Regions from separate parts of the Homo sapiens genome. Here regions 2, 3 and 4 are each linked to region 1. The links come from fine-mapping of genetic effects on gene expression. A gene starts in region 1. Each other region holds a variant in brackets. All regions are shown on one strand. Distances are from middle to middle. Region 1 holds the start of DAGLA (diacylglycerol lipase alpha). Region 2 overlaps DAGLA (diacylglycerol lipase alpha). Region 3 overlaps DAGLA (diacylglycerol lipase alpha). Region 4 has its middle 22 kb from the start of DAGLA.

What was found. PIP is the estimated chance that this variant, and not a neighbour inherited with it, causes the effect.
Region 2: its variant is the best candidate, but not a certain one, in a credible set for the expression of DAGLA in whole blood (INTERVAL, PIP 0.79).
Region 3: its variant is the best candidate, but not a certain one, in a credible set for the expression of DAGLA in blood mononuclear cells (TOPMed, PIP 0.70).
Region 4: its variant is the best candidate, but not a certain one, in a credible set for the expression of DAGLA in whole blood (INTERVAL, PIP 0.67).

The regions. Positions count from the first base shown.
Region 1 is chr11:61,677,701-61,682,843 of GRCh38, reverse strand. It overlaps DAGLA (diacylglycerol lipase alpha), which reads right to left and starts at 2,453. Exons shown (of 20, transcript NM_006133.3): 1 at 2,340-2,453. RefSeq lists an enhancer at 1-256.
Region 2 is chr11:61,726,422-61,731,564 of GRCh38, reverse strand. DAGLA (diacylglycerol lipase alpha) reads right to left here. Exons shown (of 20, transcript NM_006133.3): 7 at 3,278-3,412; 8 at 2,557-2,634; 9 at 124-248. Among named protein-coding and RNA genes, the nearest start is that of MYRF, 24 kb to the left of the region's middle. The variant A/G (reference allele first, on the strand shown) is at 2,286.
Region 3 is chr11:61,740,042-61,745,184 of GRCh38, reverse strand. DAGLA (diacylglycerol lipase alpha) reads right to left here. Exons shown (of 20, transcript NM_006133.3): 18 at 4,593-4,722; 19 at 3,836-4,023; 20 at 1-1,653. The coding sequence ends at 696. Among named protein-coding and RNA genes, the nearest start is that of MYRF, 10 kb to the left of the region's middle. RefSeq lists an enhancer at 4,177-4,750. The variant C/G (reference allele first, on the strand shown) is at 3,068.
Region 4 is chr11:61,655,952-61,661,094 of GRCh38, reverse strand. No RefSeq gene overlaps it. Among named protein-coding and RNA genes, the nearest start is that of DAGLA, 22 kb to the left of the region's middle. The variant A/G (reference allele first, on the strand shown) is at 3,103.

The DNA.
Region 1 (5,143 bases):
GCCATCCAGCCTCAACCTCCCGCAGAACCATCCAGACCTGAGCCACATCGATCTGTGGATGCTCTGACCCACTTCATTTCCTTCAGGCCACAGCCCAAAAGACGCTGATGTGACTGCTCCCCACCCCCGTTCTCAGAACCCAGAGCCAAAGGAAATTCTCCAGAGAAAACACACACACTTCCCAAGTCTTCCTCCCACACAGGTACCCTAGATCTGTCAGCCACAGACACCTCCCAGACCTACCCTGGCAATGAGGCACGTCTGCTGCCCAAGCAAAGTGCTTCCTCCTGCTTGGGCCACTCCTGCAGGACTTCACAGCTGCCGGGGCCATGCTCAGGACTGTCCTCTGGAGACCGGGGGCCTGGTTCCAGCTCAGCAGCTGACTCACAGTGTCAACAGATCCCACTTGCCCCCACCGGGAGCATGTGCGCTCAGGGCCTCTAATTCCCTATGACAGGCCCTCAACCTTCCGGCTCCCTTCCTCCCAATCACATCCCGTGCCACCATTTCCTATGGCTCCTGCCTCCAGCCCTGGTCTCTTTACTTGATGAGACTCTCTGACCTTTGTACAGTCTTTCGCTGTTTGCAAAGTGTTTCCACGTGCACCATTTCCTTTCATTCTTTACTACCAGACCACCATGTGACATGCCTTGATTGGTGAAGTCACCTGCTGAAGGTCACACAGCCAACACTGGAATTAAAGTGATATGGCTCCAAAGGCATCGGACAGTGCTCCGGTTATAGGGAACTCATCAGCATCTCCAAGCACCCACCTTGGCAATTTGGCGACCACCTGCCACCCTACCCTCAACATCATCTTTTTGGACTCATAAGTGCCTTCCCCAGCACAAGCTCAACCCTGTGATTCTTCTACCACTGATCCCACTCCCCCAAGAGATCCACAAAGAACTGAAGATTTCCCCTACACTGTAAGACTTCTCTAGGAGGAGCTGCAAATTGCTTCTCTGTAAAGTAAGGCACTAGGTGATGCTGAGTGAGACCTTCACCCAAAGCTTCCCAAAGGACTGGTGAGAGCAAACACAATCTCAGCGCAGATGGAGGGGTTTTAACATAGGAGCTAAGCAGAGAGGACAGACAGAGCCCTTGGAAAGGAATTTAAGCCTGGGGGTGGGAGTCCCGGTGGCCCCAGCAGATTCCCAGTGGCTGCAGAATCATCTTTCAAGCATACCCCAATCGATCCAATCCTCTGGACCCAAAGGCTCCCCAGCATCAAAGAAGAGAGGCAACTCCCAGATACCCTGGAGTGAACCCATCAACCCAGGGAGAAGGCAGGACCCCGTGACTACAGATAGATGGTGCGCCATACCACTCCCTCACTCGCTGACCCGGGTTACCTCTTGGTCCTGCTTGCTTCTCAGGACATATTCTGGGACACCGATCACCACTGAAAATCATCCACCCCTCCCTTCATTCCCAAAGCTAGATGAAAAGCTAGATGAATGGTTCTCTCTACCTTAGCCCAGGACAACGGTAGTGCCTGGAAGGTCTCTATCTGGGTTACCATCAGGGCCCTTGTGGTAGAAGCTTCTCCTGGCATCTCTTGTTTATGCCCATTATAAAGGACACCAACCTTCTCCCAGCCTTCTGCCCTCCTCAGTCCAGTGTACCCAACAGGCATTAAAACTGGACCCCCATGACAGAGGCAGTGTCCCCTTCATCGCCCGTGAGGAAGGATGGGCATTTACCCTTCCCATTCATCAGGATGGGAGGGCCACGGACTCCCCCCGCGGCAGTGCCGGGTAGCCCCCCGCACCACACCGTGCCAAGGCCCTTTCTCACAGTCATGCCAGGAACTCTAGCCATGCTGAGAACACCAATTCTTCAAGCCCCCAGTGCTATCACCCCAGATCATGTCAAGCCCAAGGCCAGAACCATCCCAACACCCAAGCAATGGCAGCACTTCCTCACACCCATGCTAGCGGCACCACCATGCCGGCACGAGCTGGCCACCTATCCCATAACCAGTCCGAAGGCCGTGCCCATCACCTACCTGTGCAGACAGCTGCACCACCTCACACCTGCGTGGCCACCACCGCACCAAGGTGGAGGCGAGTCTTCTGAGACCCGTTCCAGGAAAACCACGCCGCCTGTGCCGGACCCACGTTGCCCACGCCCGTGCCACGCGTGTCACCATCCCCACGCTGGTGCCAGGGGCTCCACAGACCTCACACCTGCCACGGGCGCGCGTGGCAGCTGCAACTCCGCCCGCCGACCCGTCGGGCCGGCCACCGCGCGCCCTGGACACTGCCCAGCCCGCCGCGCCGCTCGCACCGCGCCCGCGCCCAGGACCGGCCCGCCGCGCCGGAGGCCCCCCTTACCTCCCGCCCGCCGCAGGGCTCGGCCCGCCGCCGCGACCGCCACCTCCATCCTGGGCTCCCCAAGGCCCCGATTCACTAACGCCGCTTCCGCAGGGCGCCGGCGCCGGCGCGAAGGCCGCCTCCGCCCCCCGGGGGACGCTGCGTCCTTTACGTAAACCCCTCTCCGCCGCCAGCGGTGACCATGGCGACGGTCGTGGGGAGGCAGCGCCCCCTGGCGCCAGGGAGGGGAGCGGCGTCGAGGCCAGGGAGAGCCGAGTCTTCCGCGGGCGCCGGCCCTGCGCGTGGGGGCGGTGGGCGCCTGGCTCAGGCTCGGCTGGGGTCCCGTGGGCGGCCGGGAGGGGCTGGACTGGCCGCGATGCGTGCGGGGAAGGGAGCCGCCTGGGTGCCTGCCCCTCCTTTAGGTCCCTCGTGACCAGTTTTAGCGTGGGAGAGGGAAAAAAGGAAGTAGGATCACTGGAGAACTGGTTCATTTGTGGGGAGGAGAGAGACGGGTCCCACCTCCTCGGGGTGACTGAACTCTGCTTGAGAAGTCAGAGCATGGCTAGAGTTCCTGGCGTGACTGTGAGAAAGGGCCTTGGCACGGTGTGGTGCAGGGGTCTACCCGGCACTGCCGTGGGGGGAGTCCGTGGCCCTCCCATCCTGATGAATGGGAAGGGTAAATGCCCATCCTTCCCCACGGGCGACAGAGCCCGTGGGTACCCTGGGTACCCCCTCCTCCCTACCACCCCCCCACCCCCCACCCCTACCCCCGTTCCCAGTGCCCAGCATCGTGCCTGGTCTCCAAAGGGGTTTACTTGGTCAATTTTGAATTTCTGGTAAATGAAGAAAACCGCCCCTCCTGTTCCCCTTCACGCCCTTTCATTCACCGTAAGTCGCTTACACCTCCCTGGGAGCACTGTGCTGAACTGGGGGAGTGGAGCACAGAGAGGAGCAGAAGGCGGGCCCTGACTTCAAGGAGCTCATTCTGCTGGGGAGGAGACGCAGATGGAGGGGGTTTTAACACAGAAGCTAAGCCGAGAGGACAGACAGAGCCCTTGGAAAGGAATTTAAGCCTGGGGATGGGAGTCCAGTCTGCAGGTCGGGATGACTCAGCTGGGTCCCAAAGATCCAGTAAAGATTCATCAGAGACAAAAAGGGGAAGAACGTTTTCTTTCAGGCAAGAGAAGTGCCTCTAAAATGTTTCCTAGGCCCTGTTGCCACCCCCAAAATCACAGTGATCGCGCAGTTCAGTAGAAGTGGGAGCCATAGGTGAACAAGGAGGTGTGGGTAGTGGGGTGCCCGGCTTGAGCAGAAGCCTCGGTCTGAAAATTACGTGGACATTTGGGTTGGAAATGAGACTGTGAGGCCAGGACTGCCTTTTATTGAAGCAGATGGAGCCACTTCTGGAAGGAGTTCTGTGTTACCTGTGATTATTTAGAAAGCAAACTCACGTAGGTAACAAGGAAAATGAGGAGTGGGCGCATATACCCAGTGGGGCACCTCAGGGGATTCAAGGAGGAGTTGAATTCCTCAAGGCTCAGGAAGGGCAGAGATCAGGGGAGGCTTTAAGGGACAACTGTAGCAGTATCAGTTTAGGGATCTTCTTTCTAGATCATTGCCATTAATCAGAATCAAAACTGCCAGATTGGATGTCTCTTGGTTCAAAGTTCCCGATTCCCAGAAAAAAAGAATCTTATTAGTCCAGATCAGGCCACGGTCAATCAGCTATGGCCAGGGCAGAAAGTGCTTTGTGATACAAACATGTCAGTCCACTTTTCCCCGTTGAGAGACACTCCCAGAGGAGGAGAATCATGACCTGAACAGCCAGTCCAAAGACTGTCGGCCAGGGGCGGTGGCTCATGCCTGTAATCCCAGCACTTTGGGAGGCAGAGGCAGGTGGATCACCTGAGGTCAGGAGTTCGAGACCAGTCTGGCCAACATGGTGAAACCCTATCTCTACCAAAGTACAAAAATTAGCCTGGCATGATGGCAGGTGCCTGTAATCCCAGCTACTCGGGAGGCTGAGGCGGAAGAATCACTTGAACGTGGGAGGCAGAGGTTGCAGTGAGCCGAGATCGTGCCATTGCACTCTAGCCTGGGCAAGAGAGCCAGACTCCATCTCAAAAAAAAAAAAAAAAAAAGGCTGTCTACTACGGATCCATCCCTTAGCTGTCCCATGTACACAAACTCACATGTGTCCATGTGCACACATGTGTCCCGACACACGCCAGTCCTTCTTCCCATTCCTCCAAAGTTGTCTTCACCAGACAAGTACCAACAGTCACCTTCACACTTGATGTCATGAGGCTACTATTATTTCAAGATCTTCAAGGTGATTGATCCCATCTGGTCATTTAACTGAATTAAAGGGTTACTTTTACCATCACCAAATCCTTTGAACTCTTGCTACTCAGAGTGAGACATTGGCACCACCCAGAAGCTTAACGGGAATGCATAATCTCAGGCCCAAGAATCTCAGGTTGGCAACAAGATTCCCAGGTGATTTGAATGCACATGAAAGGCTGAGAAACACCACTATTATAAATGTTAGGTGACCGGGTGCGGTGGCTCACACCTGTAATCCCAGCACTTTGGGAGGCTGAGGCGGGTGGATCACCTGAGGTCAGGAGTTCAAGACCAGCCTGACCAACATGGTGAAACCCCATCTCTACTAAAAATACAAAAATCAGCTGGGCATGGTGATGGGCACCTGTAATCCCAGCTATTCGGGAGGCTGAGGCAGGAGAGTTGCTTGAACCCGGGAGGTGGAGGTTGCAGTGAGCCGAGATCCCGCTACTGCACTCCAGCCTGGGCAACAGAGTGAG
Region 2 (5,143 bases), 49 kb before region 1:
CCAGAGAAGGTGTAGAAAAGAAGCCATTCAGGGCAAAGCAGTAGGCGCAGCCCGGTAGCCCTTCCTCACACACCACCCGGGAGGAGAGGTGCAATCGCTGGGGGATGGGACAGGGGTACTCACGAGCAGGACCGAGCCAGTTGGCAGAGGCCGCAGGCGGGCTTCCGCATCAGGTACATGGGCCACCCGTAGGCAGCCAGGGCAAAGAGCATGTAGTAGCAGACCTCTTTGTAGCGGAGCATCTCTTGCTAGAAGAGAGGAGGCAGAGGGCGGTCACCTCCTGCCCTTCCTGCCTACAGCCTCAGGGCCCAGCAGTTCCCCAGGGTGGGAGCCTGCGGACCCAACCCCTGGCAGGGAGGGGTTGCTGGTCCCCTGTTGAGGTGTGGGGCCCAGGCCTTGGAGGAAGGACACTCCTCCAGGTGATAATTGCATTTCCCTAATTATCTCCATGCAACCAGGACACGAATCCTCAGAGACCTGTCCTGTTGCTCCAGTCTCAGAATTAATGATTTGGGGACAGAAAATCACTTGGTCCATTTCCTTGCCTGTTTTCCAGAGAAGGGAAGAGTTGAGGGATGTGAGTAGTAATCCCCCCACCTCGGCAATCAGCCCTGAGAAGGGCCCTTGATGCTGGGAAAATGTAGCCCTGAGAGGCCCCAGCCCTCCAGCTGGGCGGCGTGTGTGGGCCTTGGGCAACAGGGCAGCCACGCTAGGCCAGGAGACCAATCACCAAATCTCTGGCCCTTGGGTTCTTTGACTGCAAATATTGGGAGCCTTCAACTTGACTCAGCCAGCTGCAGGCTCCCAGGGCTCCGGGCAGGGGCTGCGTTGGTGGGAGACTGGGATCTCTTGGGAGAAAGGCACCAGTTTGAAAGCCAGTGTGTCTGAGGCCCAGCAGCCACTGTTGATGCTGAGGAGGTTATTGGCTGCTGGGGTGGAGGGAGGAAGAGGCAGGGGTGCCCCAGCAAAGTGTCTGCCAGCTTCCAGTCTTTCCCGAGTGCCCCAGGCACCGGGAGAGGGAATTAGTCACCTTGTAAAAGTTAAGGAGGGTGGTTAGTCACCTTGTGAAGTGAAATAGGTGGCACCTTGATCAGGGCCCGGAGGGGTGGAAACATCCCTGGCCAGCTCAGCTGCTCTTCAGGAACGAGAGTGGAGAGGTAATTATCCTCTCCCTGTCAGAAGCTCCCTGCAGCCCTGGGGGCGGGGTGGGCCCTGGCAGCCTCTGCCAGGTGGCAGGTGTGACCCTGGCACCTCGATGGGAGTCACTTGATGGGAGTCACAGCTGCCTGCCCTCCCCGCTCCCTGTGAGGAGTGGGAGGGAGAAGGTGGTGAGAACAGCCAGGGCAGAGCCTGGCAAGCAGAAATGGGCTGGTTTGGGGCACTTACTATGGATGTGGCTATTTTTAGAGAGGATACAAATGCCTGCTTTAGTGGGGAGTAGGGACAGGCAGGGAGGACTGAGGCTTTTCTAGAGGACTGAGTGTTGGTTTTTTTTTTTTCTTCTTTTTAAGGGACAGTGCAGCTGGAGTGCAGTGGCAATCATAGCTCACTGCAGCCCTGATCTCCTGGGCTCAAGCAATCCTCCTACCTCAGCCTCCCAAGTAGCTGGGGTCACAGGCATGTGCCACCATGCTTGGCTAATTTTTTTTTTTTTTGTAGAGACAGGGTCTCACTATGTTGCCCAGGCTGGTCTCAAACTCCTGGCCTCAAGCAATCCTCCCACCTCGGCCTCCCAAAGTGCTGGGATTGCAGGCACAAGGCAGCACACGTGGCCTAAAGGACTGAGATTTCTAAGAGACGGAATCCTTTCCATCAGCATCCTGGCTGGCACCGAGGCTTCCTGGCACTGTGATGGGAATGGCTCGTGTCCTCTCAGCACAGCTCTGGTAGAAGGTGTGCCTAGTGTCATTTCACAGATTCAGGATCCAGCTCAGAGGGGATGAGGGGCCTGCTGGAGGTCGCAGCGACAGGCATCAGAGCAGATGCACGCTCCAGCCATTTGCTTCCTGAGGCAGGGCCTGTTTCTCCCGGCTGCCAGCTGTGGTTTCAGCCTGGGCTGTACTGGGCCCTGGGCTGTACTGGGCCCTGGGCTGTGTGCTGGGCCCTGGGCTGGGGTTCTCCCACCATGTTACTGGCACCACCTTTCCCTATTACACACTGGATTTCTACGAAAGGCGATTGAGAAAAGGTTCCACTACTAAAAAAGCTTGGAAACCAAGTACTACGCCCATTGCGTTTCATTAACAGCAGCAGCAGCAGCAAAAATGCTAGCAGCTCACCCTGGT[A/G]AAGTGCTCTGTCATCTCAAGAGGCCAGGACCAGACACTTCTGAACTTGGTAAAGGAATTCAGGGGATTTGTCTGTCGAACCGGTGTGAAGTGGGTGGTTCTCGTGAGGGGCATGATCTGAGCAGAGAGGCTCTCTGGAGAGCCGGGGGGAGACCGGGCAGGGGCAATGTGGCTGGCACTGCAAGGGCAGCTGGGAGGAGTTTGCTTAGGTCATTGTGGCAGAGTGGGAGGGATGGGGACGGGGTGGGGTGAGAGTTGATGTCTGACTCACTGAATTCTTGAGGTCGAGGTACTTGGTGTTTCTGGTCACCGGCATCCCAGACAGGAAGGCCAAGATGTCATTGTTTGCCTGTAAGACCGGCAGGTGAAGAAGGACAATCACTGGCCCAGGCCCGGCTGCATGGCTGGGAAAGGGGGCCCAGGCCCTGGCGTCCGCCTGCTTCCCAAAGGCCGAGAAGCCCAAACGAGCATGCAGCTTCTAGTTCTTCCAAGATTCAGCCACTTTTCCAAAATCTGAGGTTTCCCCATATTTCCAGATGCTCCCCTTCTACCCAAAACATCAAGCCCCTGAGGACATTCCTGGCCCACAGCAGGCGAAAGGTATTTTGTATGAGACACTGAGAAACCCTAACTGGGGTTGGTGTGCTGGTGGGGATGTGGGGTGGGCGGAGCGGCCACGCAGAAGACCGACTCGGGAGCTCACCACGTCCACTAAGCCTGTGGTTAGAAGTCCTTTGAGGGCCAGCCCCAGAGGCAGCCATGCACGACCCAGAAAGTCCCTAGAGTAGTAGTCACGGAAAGCCTGGCCGAAGGACAAGCTCAGGAAGGCAGGGGGAGCCAGAGGTAAAGGTGACCTCCAGGGTCCAAGAGAGTGCGTGGTCACTGGGGAGCTGCGTGGGAGCCGAGCCCTCCGCTGCAGGGGCCACAGGGAAGGGGCCTGAAAGAAGGGTGGTGTGGAGAGGTGACCTGGAGAAGGGGCTGGTGGTGCTCACCTCGTCCAGCACGGCGTTGCGCTTGGCCCGCTGCCGCTGCCGGAGCAGCACCAGGCCAGCAATGATGTCGGATGGCACAATGTCAAGGTCCCGGAAGAACTCCGCAAAGAGGTAGGCGATTTCTGAGTAGGCATCCTACGAGGTCCAGGAAGGCAGGAGGCAGTGGCAGGGGAGCAGGAGAGAGGACGAGAGGCCAGGAGTAAATCCCCCAGGGCTGGGAGGCTGCAGAAGCAGGTGTCTGCTCGGGGTCCCCTGGACAGGTTCTCCCCAGCACCTCCACAGCGCCCACTGAGCCTGACCCCATGTGGCCCTGTGACCCTGAGGGCCCTGCCCAGGGCTCCTAGACCTGGCAGTAGCCACCCAGCCCTCTCCTCTCCTTGGAATTCGCATGGTGCCCACTGTCTACCAAGAGCAGGCGCCAACTTGAGCCACTCCTTTTTGCTTTCCCAGACGCTAGAATCAAGGCCGGGTGGCTCTGGCTCATTTCTCCTCTAGCCATTCTCTCCAGCACAGAAACCAAACTAAGCTCCTGGCTGCCTCTGACCCACCAGCTGGGACCTTGGAAGTCCCTCGTAAGGCCTCTGTGGAGCCTGCCAGGTCTCAGGGCCCCTCCCCCAGCTACCCACAGGCTGCTGGCTCAGTGACCCCCACAATGTGCCCTAGAAGGGGGTGTACTCTCTGGCCCAGTGGTCCCCCATGGCTTCTCTCCAGGCCCTTGGCCTGAAGACAGTGCATGTCTGGGCCTCAGGGCAGGAGGCGAGCCCTGCTGGCTGGTGCCCTCTTAGTCTTCCCTTCCTGGCCCCAGGCTGCAGCCCAGAGCCTCTTCCCTAACCTGTTAGGAGACGCTGAGGTGGGAACAACCACATGGCAATGAAGTCTGTCTCACTGGGTCTCGCCCCTGAGTGTTTGGCACTTGTAAGTGACTAAATCAAGGGCTGCAAATTCAAATGCCGAATGGAGCCAAACGGAGCCAGATACTGCTCGGCTCCAGCTGACCGGAGGCCCTCCAGGGCCCACTTCACCAGATTCAGAAATACAGAAGTTTATGGAAATACCCCTGATTTTTAAATGCTGGCATCCAATTAAAATGTGTAAGCAACACAACACACGCTGATCAAAACATGCTTGGGACCAGACCTGCCCCCTGAGGCCATCAGTGTCTAACAGGACCTTTGCCGTGGGGCTCTGCTGTGATGTGCTATCTTTTCCCCAGACTCTGACAACAGCCCCAGCTCTGCCCGTGCACCCAGAGGGGCAGGCGTGCCCTCCACACAGCAGCCCCAGCCTCCATCCGCCAGGGGCCGGCTCTCTGCCCTCTGCATGGCCTGCCTTGCAGCCCAGACCCCTCAGACCGCCCCAGAGAGACCCAAGGGGGTGCTCCCCGCCCACCAGGGAACCTCGGGGGCTTTCTTACACTTGATTACTCACTCTACGGCTCACCAGGGGACGCTGGTGGGCAGGAGCCACTCGAGGCTTCCCGGTGGCTTCCGTGGAAGGCACTTTGCTGTCTGCCTCAGGGAGGAGTGGTCTCCTGACCTCACTGGCTCTGCTACTAACTAGCTGTGGGACGCTGAGCAAGTCACTCCACCTCTCTGGGCCTCAGCTGCCTGATCTGTAAAATGAGGGGTGGGACTAGATGATCTCTAAGGTCCCTGCCCGCTGCGGGGCACCCCTGGATGATCCCGGGGCCTGCCTCCCTTCCCTCCCCTTGGGGGCCGCCCCCAGCTGGCCCTGTCTTCCTTCTGCAGTGCCCTGGCATTAAGTCCGGCCCTCTGGTCACTCCTCTGAGCTCCCAGGTGCTGAAGGCTATGTGTCCCCATCTAGGACCGTGCTAAACGCCTATCGGCTTTGCCAGGCCTTCTTGAT
Region 3 (5,143 bases), 62 kb before region 1:
CAGCATGAGAGGCACAAGGCAGAGAAGGGGCGGCCCTGACCCCACCCTCCTCTGGCCCCTCCAGGCCCCTGGCTGCCTTGGGCCCTGCTCAGAGGACGGCTACTGAACACATGATTGGGCGGGGGGCTTGCAAGCCCAGAACACATCCTGAGCCAAGCCCAGCAGCTTCTGTAAACATGTACAGCACTGCAGGCCACCTCGGCAGGGGCACCCCAGGGGGCCGGCCAGCAGGCACCAGATCTGGGGGGTGGCCAGGACGATGCCGGCCTGGACCACAGATGAGAATACATGTGTCGGGGGGCACTGCTCTCCACCTGGCCCCTGGGAGAGCAGCCAGCAGGCAGTGATGGGAGGCAGCTTGCCCATGGCCTGTCCTGGAGCAGGGGGTGCCAGAATGCCCCCATGGAGGGCAGTCAGGCTGAGTGTGGCCCACCCAGCAGGCTGCCCAGGCTCCTCCCCACTCCACACCCTTCCCCATCTTTCCCCATCTGTGGGGCCAGATCCCAGCCACCTTGGCTCTGGGGGTCCTAAGCTGAGGTAGGGATGCGGACCCCCAGCTCAGCAGCGATGCCTGTGCCTGAGGCTAAACTGCCCCTGGGGGTCTGTCCTTAAAGCTGCCCGGCAGGGGGCAGGCACCAGGTGCCCACAGGGCCACCTGCTCCTGCCTGGGCCCGGCTGGCCACGCAACTGGGGTGCTAGCGTGCTGAGATGACCAGCTCATCTTGCTTGGCGGGGCTGGCTCCGTGGCCAGTGGGGGTAGAAGTCCGGATCTTGTCAGCCGCCAGGCATTCCTGGCTACTGAGGCCCGTGGGCGTCAGGTCCATGAGCTCACCCGAGGAGCTGAGCGGGAAGGAGGGCGAGAGTGAGATGCCCGAGGAGGGGTCGGCTGAGCCGGCAAAGAGCCGTGGGGGCTTGGGCACCAGGTTGGGCTCGAACTGGGCACGGAGCAGGATCTCTTGCTGGCTGGGGGACTTGGGGCCCTCAGCGTAGTCACTGGTGGGGCTCTCGGGCACCACCATGCAGTAGAGGTCTTGGAAGGAGCTGCTCTTGCTGTCCAGGTTGAAGAGGCTGTCGATGAACTCGGCGAATTCCAGCACCTGAGGACTGGGCGAGTCCCCCAGGCGCCCATTGTGCAGCGCCAGCTCCCCGCGGGAGGCCGGCCCGCCACCCCCACCGCCAACCTCTTCCTCCTCGTCATTGGCCGCAGCACTGGGGGGCCGCTCAGGAGTGACGCCGCCACTGCCCAGGGCCGCCTCCAGGGGCTGCGTGTCCTGTGAGTGCTTGGACAGGCTGTCGGCCGCCAGCAGCTCAGTGCGCGAGCTCAGGGATGGGTTTTCCTCGGGGATGGCAGGGTCAATGTAGAAGAGGTGGCCTTCATCACGCTCCAGCACAGCGTGGAGGCTGGGGGAGCCCCGGATGCTGCGGAAGCCTGAGGAGCGGCGCGAGTCGAAGCTGTACAGGGACTCAGTGTCCGAGAGGCTCTCCATGGTGGCCAGTGGTGCCCGCCGGGCCTGCAGCTCCGCCGCCAGCCGCTCCTGGGTAGACAGCAGCAGCAGCTCCACCGGGTCCTGGCGGGCCGCCGCCGCAACCACTGGCGACAGCAGCCGCCCCTCCGAGAAGCCCTCCAGGCTCATCTCAGACTGGGACTTGCTCCTGCAGAGGGAGAGGAGAGCAGGGGGTATAAGACTCAGAAGGGAGAGGGGACTGAACCCCAGCTCCCTGGCTAAAAGGAACTTGCAGGGAATAAAGGGTACAGTTCATTTAGCAGTTGTTGATGATGTGCAGCAGGGAATGCTTATTTTCTTTTTTTTTTTTTTTTTTTGAGACAGAGTCTCGCTCTGTCGCCCAGGCTGGAGTGCAGTGGCACGATCTTGGCTCACTGCAAGCTCCGCCCTGGGTTCACGCCATTCTCCTGCCTCAGCCTCCCGAGTAGCTGGGACTACAGGTGCCCGCCACCATGCCTGGCTAATTTTTTGTATTTTTTAGTAGAGATGGGGTTTCACCATGTTAGCCAGGATGGTCTCAATCTGCTGACCTGGTGATCCGCCTGCCTCGGCCTCCCAAAGTGCTGAGATTACAGGCGTGAGCCACCGCGCCCAGCCAGGAATGATTATTTTTTAAAAACAACTCACAAGAACCCAAGATAGAAGACAAAAGAGTTGATGCTGGGTTGAGCCGCGGGGTCCCTGAGGGGCTAAGGCCCTGCTGGCAGCACTAGGACTTCAGGAGTGCTGCTGGGGTTCTCTGCACCAGAACCCCTGTCATTGTACCAATGTGAGAATGAGGCTCTGATAGACTGGCTGCCCCAGATCACTCATGAGCCTGCCCCAGGTCACTCATGAGGCCACAGTGGAATGAGAGAGACAGAGGGAGGGAAGGAGGGAGGGAGGGAAGGAGGAAGGGAGGGAGGGAGGGAGGGACAGAGGGCAGCAGGGAGACAGGGAAGGGAGAGAGCCCTGCACATAGCTGCCCAACTGGTTCCACCCCAATCTCAGAGCCAGCAACCCTGGGTGCCACTCCCAGGGATCTCATCACTTCCTTCCTCATCCGGGTCTCCTCCTGTCTCCCATGGGCCGCAGCCCTCTGCTGGGTGGGGAGCCTAGTGCCCCTGGCTCCGCAGACCAGCCTGCAGGGAATGAGTGACAGGGCAGGGAGTGGGTGGCTTGCAGCAGTCACCGCAGCCGGAAATGGACACTGGCTTCTTCATCGGGTTGTGCAGCTGCCACAGGAAATGCACAAATGGCAGGGAGAGACGTCCAGTTGTCCCTACCAAGGGCCAGGAAGCAGCCTCTTGACCAGATCTGTGACCAAGCACACAGGGCCTGTGTGGGAAGGTCCTAGAAAGGCAGGACAATCCTCCCCTGGAAGGACTACCACTTAAGAGCCTCGCACCCCTCAAAGAGTGTGTGAATAGCAAGGGCGCTGTGGCCCCCATGTGCGTGCCCCTGTGAGCATGTGTGCACGCCTCTGTTCATGTGTATGAGTGTGTAGACCAGACGTCTGTGTATGTCAGCTGGCTTGTGTGTCTGGGTCTGTGCACAGGTGTATTCATGCATTTCCATGAGCA[C/G]CTGCCTGTCCACATGTGTCCTTGTATATGTGTCTCCACCTTTGTCTTGGTGTGTGTCTTGTACATGTGCATGTCTGTAGGGGGTGACCTGTGTACTTATAACTAATAATTGTGTGCACATGTATGTGTGTAAGCTTCAATACAAATATGTAAGTAAATGGGTGTCCATCTGTTTGCGTCTAAGTGTGTAAGAGTGAATCTGTGCAGGCCGGCCATGGTGGTTCACCCCTATAATCCCAGCACTTTGGGAGGCTGAGGCGGGCAGATCACCTGAGGTCAGGAGTTCAAGACCAGCCTGGCCAACATGGTGAAATCCCATCTCTACTAAAAATACAAAAATTAGCTGGGCACGGTGGCAGGCGCCTGTAATCCCAGCTACTTGGGAGGCTGAGGCAGGATAATCGCTTGAACCTGGGAGGTGGAGGTTGCAGTGAGCCAAGGTCGCGCCATTGCACTCCGGCCTGGGGGAAAAGAGCGAGACTTCGTCTCAAAAAAAAAAAAAAAAAAAAAGAGTGAATCTGTGCTTTTGTGGCCCAGGGTTTGTGGGTCTGTGTGCCTCCCCTGGCTCATGTAGGATTCAGGGACAGCAGGCTGTGGGACAGCTGGAGCACAGCAAGAGAGCCCTAGAGCACAGAGGGTGAGTTTGACCCCTCCTGTGCACGTGTGCAGAGCTGAGCCCAGTGCATGCACAAAATGCATGTGCACACAAGTCTATGTGCTCTGAACCACACTCACCCTGGGGTGGGGCTGGGAGTGGCCAAGGCTCACCTGACGCTGCTGTTGCGGTGGTCTGCAGTCGGCAGCTCCAGGGCAAGGCCAGTGGGCATGGGCGGCCCCGTGGGGAGTGGCTGCTGCTGGAAGATGAGCTCAGGAGTCAGGTCCACCTCGGTAGGGCTCACCATGACCTTGGCTGCAGAGAGCAGAGCGGTCTTCCCCTTGTTGTAGTTCTCCAGCACCTGAGGACAGGACAGAGGAGGCTGGGGGTGGTGGAGGGACATCAGGCCCCATCGTGGGGCCGATGTGGAGCCAGGGCCCAGGCCTCTCAGGCCAAGCAAAGCCTCATGGAGTCACTTGGGTCCCACTCTCCTCCTCCTGAGGTCACCACTCCCCAAGGCCTGAGACTTGCCCATCTGGTCACGACTCGCCCCACAGCCCGGCGAGTGCTCCTGCCCTACCTGCCTTCAGCCTTTCCGCAGCCAGGGGATGGCTGTGGCTGTCGCTGCTTGCCCATTCATCTGTTAAGGGCCAGGTGGCCTTCCGGGCCTCTGAGCTGAGCCTGCCTCAGGGACAGGCCCCTGGGAGTCTCCTTATCTCCTCCCCACCATGGGGCAACGTGGTGATGTGGACAGAGCCAGGGGTGTGAGGTTGAAGTATTTGAGTGGGGCTTTCTGGCCCAGCTACCTACTTCTCTGAGCCCCAGCACCCTTGTCTGTAAAATCGGGCAGTGATCTGATGGTGCTTACGGGGTTCTGATGGGGTGACAGTGCCTTATTCCCTGGTGGTACCCTGCCGGGAGCTGCCTCACCTTGTTGAGCCCCTCCATGACCACATAGGGCAGGTGCTCATGCAGCATGGCTGGCGAGATGATCACCTCATTGAAGGCCTTGTTGTCGCCCCAGATGGCAAAGTATGTGGGCTCCTCCTGCTCACAGCAGCTGAGAGGGACATGGACAGAGGGGAGTTAAGGGTGGGGTGGTGGCCTGGCCCTCGGTGCCAGGGCCTCCTGGCTCTGTTCTCTGCCCTGCTCAGCAGAGCTGGCATGGTTTGGAGGCCCCTGGCCTGCCTGGCAGCAGGGCTCTGTTCCCTGGCCTGGCTCCTGCCCTGCCCTCAGCCTGGGAAAGGCTGACCTCGAGCCTCAGCCATGGTCCCTCCACAGCCTTCGACCTGCTTTTGGCCTGGGCCACACCTGCTCCACCTGCTGCACGGCCCAGCTCACCAGCTGTGTCAGGGGAGGAAGCCGACCCTGGAGGGAGGAGCCAGGGCCCAGCCGTCTGAAGGAGCACAGTGGGAAAGGTCTACCCACTTGCCTGCTCCTATTCTCTCTCCTGGCGCAGCCCCCACCTTGCTCACAGCTGT
Region 4 (5,143 bases), 22 kb after region 1:
CAATTAAACCCCTTTTCTTTATCACCTATGCAGCATCAGGTATTTCTTCACAGCAATGCAATAACGGCCTAACACACTCCCCAACCATGTGTGAGGGTTTCAGTTGCGTACATCCTTGCCAACAGTTGGTATTGTCATTCCTTTCAATTTTGCCAATTTTCCAGCCACCTTTTGAAGACTGTAGCCCCAACCTGCTCCTTTTGTTACCGGAAAGGGGCCCCGGTCCAGACCCCAAGGCAGGGTTCTTGGATTTTGTGCAAGAAAAAATTTGAGGCGAATCCATAGAGTAAAGTGAAGGCAAGTTTATTAGAAAAATAACAGAATAAAAGGGCTGCCGGTTAATCATTTTTATGGTTCTTTTTCTTTTTTTTTTTCTTTTTTTTTGAGACAGAGTCTTGCTCTGTTGCTCAGGCTGGAGTGCAGTGGCGAGATCTCGGTTCACTGCAAGCTCCGCCTCCTGGGTTCACGCCATTCTCCTGCCTCAGCCTCCCGAGTAGCTGGGACTACAGGCACCCGCCACCATGCCCGGCTGATGTTTTTTATTTTTTTAGTAGACATGGGGTTTCACCGTGTTAGCCAGGATGGTCTCTATCTCCTGAGCTCGTGATCCTCCCACCTCAGCCTCCCAAAGTGCTGGGATTACAGGCGTGAGCCGCCATGCCCGGCCTCTTTATTTTTTTTGAGATGGAGTTCCGCTCTTGTTGCCCAGGCTGGAGTGCAATGCTGTGATCTCACTCACTGTAACCTCTGCCTCCCAGGTGCAGGAGATTCTCCTGCCTCAGCCTCCCGAGTAGCTGGGATAACAGGCACCCGCCACCACACAAGGCTAATTTTTTGTATTTTTAGGAGAGACAGGGTTTCACCATGTTGGCCAGGCTGGTCTCGAACTTCTGACCTCAGGTGATCCATCCACCTCAGCCTCCCGAAGTGCTGGGATTAGAGGAGTGAGCCACCATGCCCAACTGGTTATTTCTTGAGGATATGCTAAATAAGGGGTGGATTATTCATGCCTCCCCTTTTTAGACCATATAGGGTAACTTCCTGACATTGCCATGGCATTTGTAAACTGTGTACCAGTGAGGGCCACCAGAGGTCAGCCTCATTGCCATCTTGGTTTTAGTGGGTTTTAGCCGGCTTCTTTACTGCAGACCGTGTTATCAGCAAGGTCTTTATGACCTGTATCTTGTGTCAACCTATCTCATCCTATGACTTAGAATGCCTAACCATCTGGGAATGCAGCCCAGTAGATCTCAGCCTTATTTTACCCAGCCCCTATTCAAGATGGAGTTGCTCTGGTTCAAACGCCTCTGACACTTCATCCATCCCTCGCAACGGCCCCACTGGGAACAGGTGATTGCCCTGGACTGACCTGCAATTGTCCAGCGCCTCCATTTGGGCTGGACAGGAGGTCAGCTAGCCTCTTGGTGGGGGCTGGCCTAAGCTCTGCCCCATGGAGTTGCTCCATAATGAGTGGCACTAGGATGGCCCAATCAAAGCCTTTTCTCAGCACATATACCAGCAGGGAGTAGGTGACATGGATCAGGACTGTGGTAGTGACCCTGAGCCACCCCAGGGGGTTGAGCTGGGTCCTGGGGGATTCTGGCGCTGGTGCATCAGTCACTTCTTTCTTGCCTCTTCCTAGTTTCCACCTATGCCTTTTACTCAGCATTGGCCATAAGTGCCCCAAGCACTGTCGCTGGAAAGCATTTGGCTTCTACAGATGTAATGTTTTTCAAATGAATGTGGATGCCACTGTGATTAATAACATTCAAATTCACTGAAAGCATTTCTGAATTCAAAGTAGTCTTTTGTGCTGTATTTTCTCAGCCAATGAATACATTAAAATACAGCTATTAACAAATGGGATGGAAATAGGTGAAGCTGTTGAAATTTAAGAGTTCAGAAACAAACAGAGTTCAGATGGGCCCTGGATGTAAACCAACATGGCCATTTTGGAGTTTCCATTGGGACAGGATGCTTCTGATCTTCCACCTCCCTGGAGTCACCCTTCCTTGTAAGATCCAGTGAAAATGGCTGTCTCTGTCCTTCATACCAGGGAAGGCTAGCATCCTTCTCAATGTTTTTGAGAATCTCCAGTGAATGCCTATGATCTCCTGTTACCTCTTAGCCCAGATTTCTTCAACCCCGCCCCAGCTCCCTCCATACTGCTGCGATTTCCCTTCGCAATGCTTCACTAGAGCACAGGTCTGGCCCTTGCTAGTGGGGTGATCAAACAGGGGCCACAGGAGCCAGACTGCCTGGGTTCAAAGTCTTGCTCTGCAACTGATGAGCTGATTGGCCTTGGGCAATGGTCTCCATCTCTCTAGGCTTTGGTTTTCTCATTATAAACTGGGGGTAAGTGTGGCCCCTACCTCTTAGGCCTTGCTGCAGGTCACATGAGTTAGTGTGAGTAAAGCATCAGCAAGTTAGTTAGGGAATATGAGCCATCATTTTTATTGATCCCCCTCCAAGCACTATAGTGTGTAACTGACCTTTTTTTTTTTGAGACCGAATCTGGCTCTGTCACCCAGTGTAGTGCAGTGGTGCAATCTCTGCTCACTGCAACCTCTGTCTCCCAGGTTCAAGCAATTCCCCTGTCTCAGTCTCCCAAGTGCTGGGACTACAGGTGTGCACCACCATGCTTGGCTAATTTTTGTATTTTTAGTAGAGACAGGGTTTCACCATATTGGTCAGGCTGGTCTCGAACTCCTGACCTCAGGTGATCCACCCATGTTGGCCTCTCAAAGTGGTGGGGTTACAGGCATTAGCCAAGGCACCCAGCCTGTGTAACTGACTTTTATGGACGAATTGGGAACAGCAGAGGGGGGATTACAGATTTACAGTTTAGCACCTTTTGTCTGTCCCCACCCCAGGAAGCGTCTCAGCAGCCTGCCATCTCCTCTGGCCTTGGCCTGTTGCCATTTCTTGGGGGCTGCTCACTTCCCACCTCTCTGGACCCTTCTCCCAACTGTCCTCTAAGTTCCACAGCCTCCCGCCCGCCTCTCAGCCACCAGAAGAATATGCAGATTGGTTTTACGGGGCACCTGCATTCTGGTCTCAGCTGCTGTAATTACAGAAAAGGCTCTAAGACAATGACACCCA[A/G]TGAGGCCAAGACGGCCCCTCAGAGGAGTCTGGGAAATCTGCAAGGGCATTTTTCTTTGTCAAAATGGGAGACAGAGACCTGTTTTTATATAAACACAAAATAAATAACTTTTGCATGCTTTCAACATACACAGAATTTTCTAGGAACATGACTATTGTGTATACAAGAGAAGATTGTCCTTTGTTTTGCTTGGAATTTGGCCAAGACTCGTTGCCCATTTCATGTCACTGGCAACAGCACCGCCTGTGGGGTCTGAATCACCATCACAACTACCTGTGTCCATCTGCCTTGTGGCCGCCATGGTCTCCGTGGCCCCACCTCTAGGAGCAAGTGTGGGGCCACCTCATCTCTGGCTGTAGTCAGCCTGCAGATTTTCTTTCTTTTTCTTTTTTCTTTTTTTTTTTTTTTTTTTTGAGATGGCGTCTCACTCTGTTGCCCAGGCTGGAGTGCAGTGGCACAATCTTGGCTCGCTGCAACCTCCATCTCCCAGGTTCCAGCGATTCTCCTGCCTCAGCTTCCCAGGTAGCTGGAATTACAGGCGCCCACCACCGCGCCTGGCTAATTTTTGTAGTTTTAGGAGAGACAGGGTTTCACCATGTTGGCCAGGCTGGTCTCGAACTCCTGACCTCAGGTGATCCGCCCACCTCAGACTTCCATAGTGCTAGGATTACAGGCATGAGCCACCACGCCCAGGCTGCCTGCAGATTTTCATCCTGAAATTTATATTATTTTATTAGAAATTACCCTCCTTTTATTTCTCCTTCATATTATAGTTAGGATATCATTGATTTTTTTTTTAAAGCATGTGTGAGGGTAGGTTAGTTTATTTATGAATTTCATTTCAGCTTGGTGAAGGGAACATTACAAAATATTTGTAATGGGGGGCGGGGGTTGGGTCTGACTTCTCTACCTTTGCATAATTCAAGAAATCCATTTCTGAGCTCTCGGCAACCTGGAGTGATTTGCGTCTGAGATGAAGTGCCCAGAGGTGCAGGCCGCTGCTGCCCTTTAGTCTTTGGAATCGCTTTTTCCTCTTCCCTATAAGTGTTCTGGGTTCACGACCCCATTGCTAATCTCTTGCTCCCAGGCCTCTGGCCTGGACCTGTCCTCCACAGAGTGGCCCCAGGAGATGCTCCCAGCATATCAATACTTCTCAGCTTGAAACACTCATGTGGCCCCACGTTCCCCATGATCTACGTTTGTCCCTTGAGCTATGTGCAGGGCACAGCATCAGTTCAGCTCACTCCTCCCCTCTCATTTTGCATCCAGCCTCCTCTCCTTTGCCCATGCTGTTCCCTCTGTCTGGAATGCTGCCTCACCACCCTGCACCCCTGCACCCTCTCCTCCCTGCACCCCCTGTACCCTCACCACCCTGCACCCCCTGCACCCTCACCACCCCGCACCCCCCTGCATTCTCACCATCCCTCACTCCCTGCACCCTCACCACCCCGCGCCCCTGCACCCTCACCACCTCGCACTCCCTGCACCCTCACCTCCCCGCACCCCCTGCACTCTCACCACCCCGCACCCCTGCACCCTCACCACCCCACACCCCCTGTACCTTCACCTCCATTTCTGACTGTCCCCAAGGACTTCCTATTCTTCTCTTCATTAGAAACTCAGTCCTGAAGTTCCTGGGTCTTGAAGATGCCTCTAGAAAATCAGCTTCTAGACCAGGCGCAGTGGCTCACACCTGTAATTCCAGCACTTTGGGAGGCCGAGGCGGGCAGATCACCTGAAGTCAGGAGTTCAAGACCAGCCTGGCCAACATGGCGAAACCCCATCTCTACAAAAATACAAAACTTAGCCGGGCGTGGTAGTGTGCACCTGTAATCCCAGCTACTCAGGAGGCTGAGTGGAAGAATTGCTTGAACCTGGGAGGCGGAGGTTGCAGTGAGCTGACCAAGATCATGCCACTGCACTCCAGCCTAGGCAACAGAGCGAGACTCTGTCTCAAATAGAAAGAAAAGAAAATCAGCTTCCACCTGAGCGTGGAGTTGGGCAGGGGAGAAGGGTGTGGGGAAAAGCAAGAGAGATCAG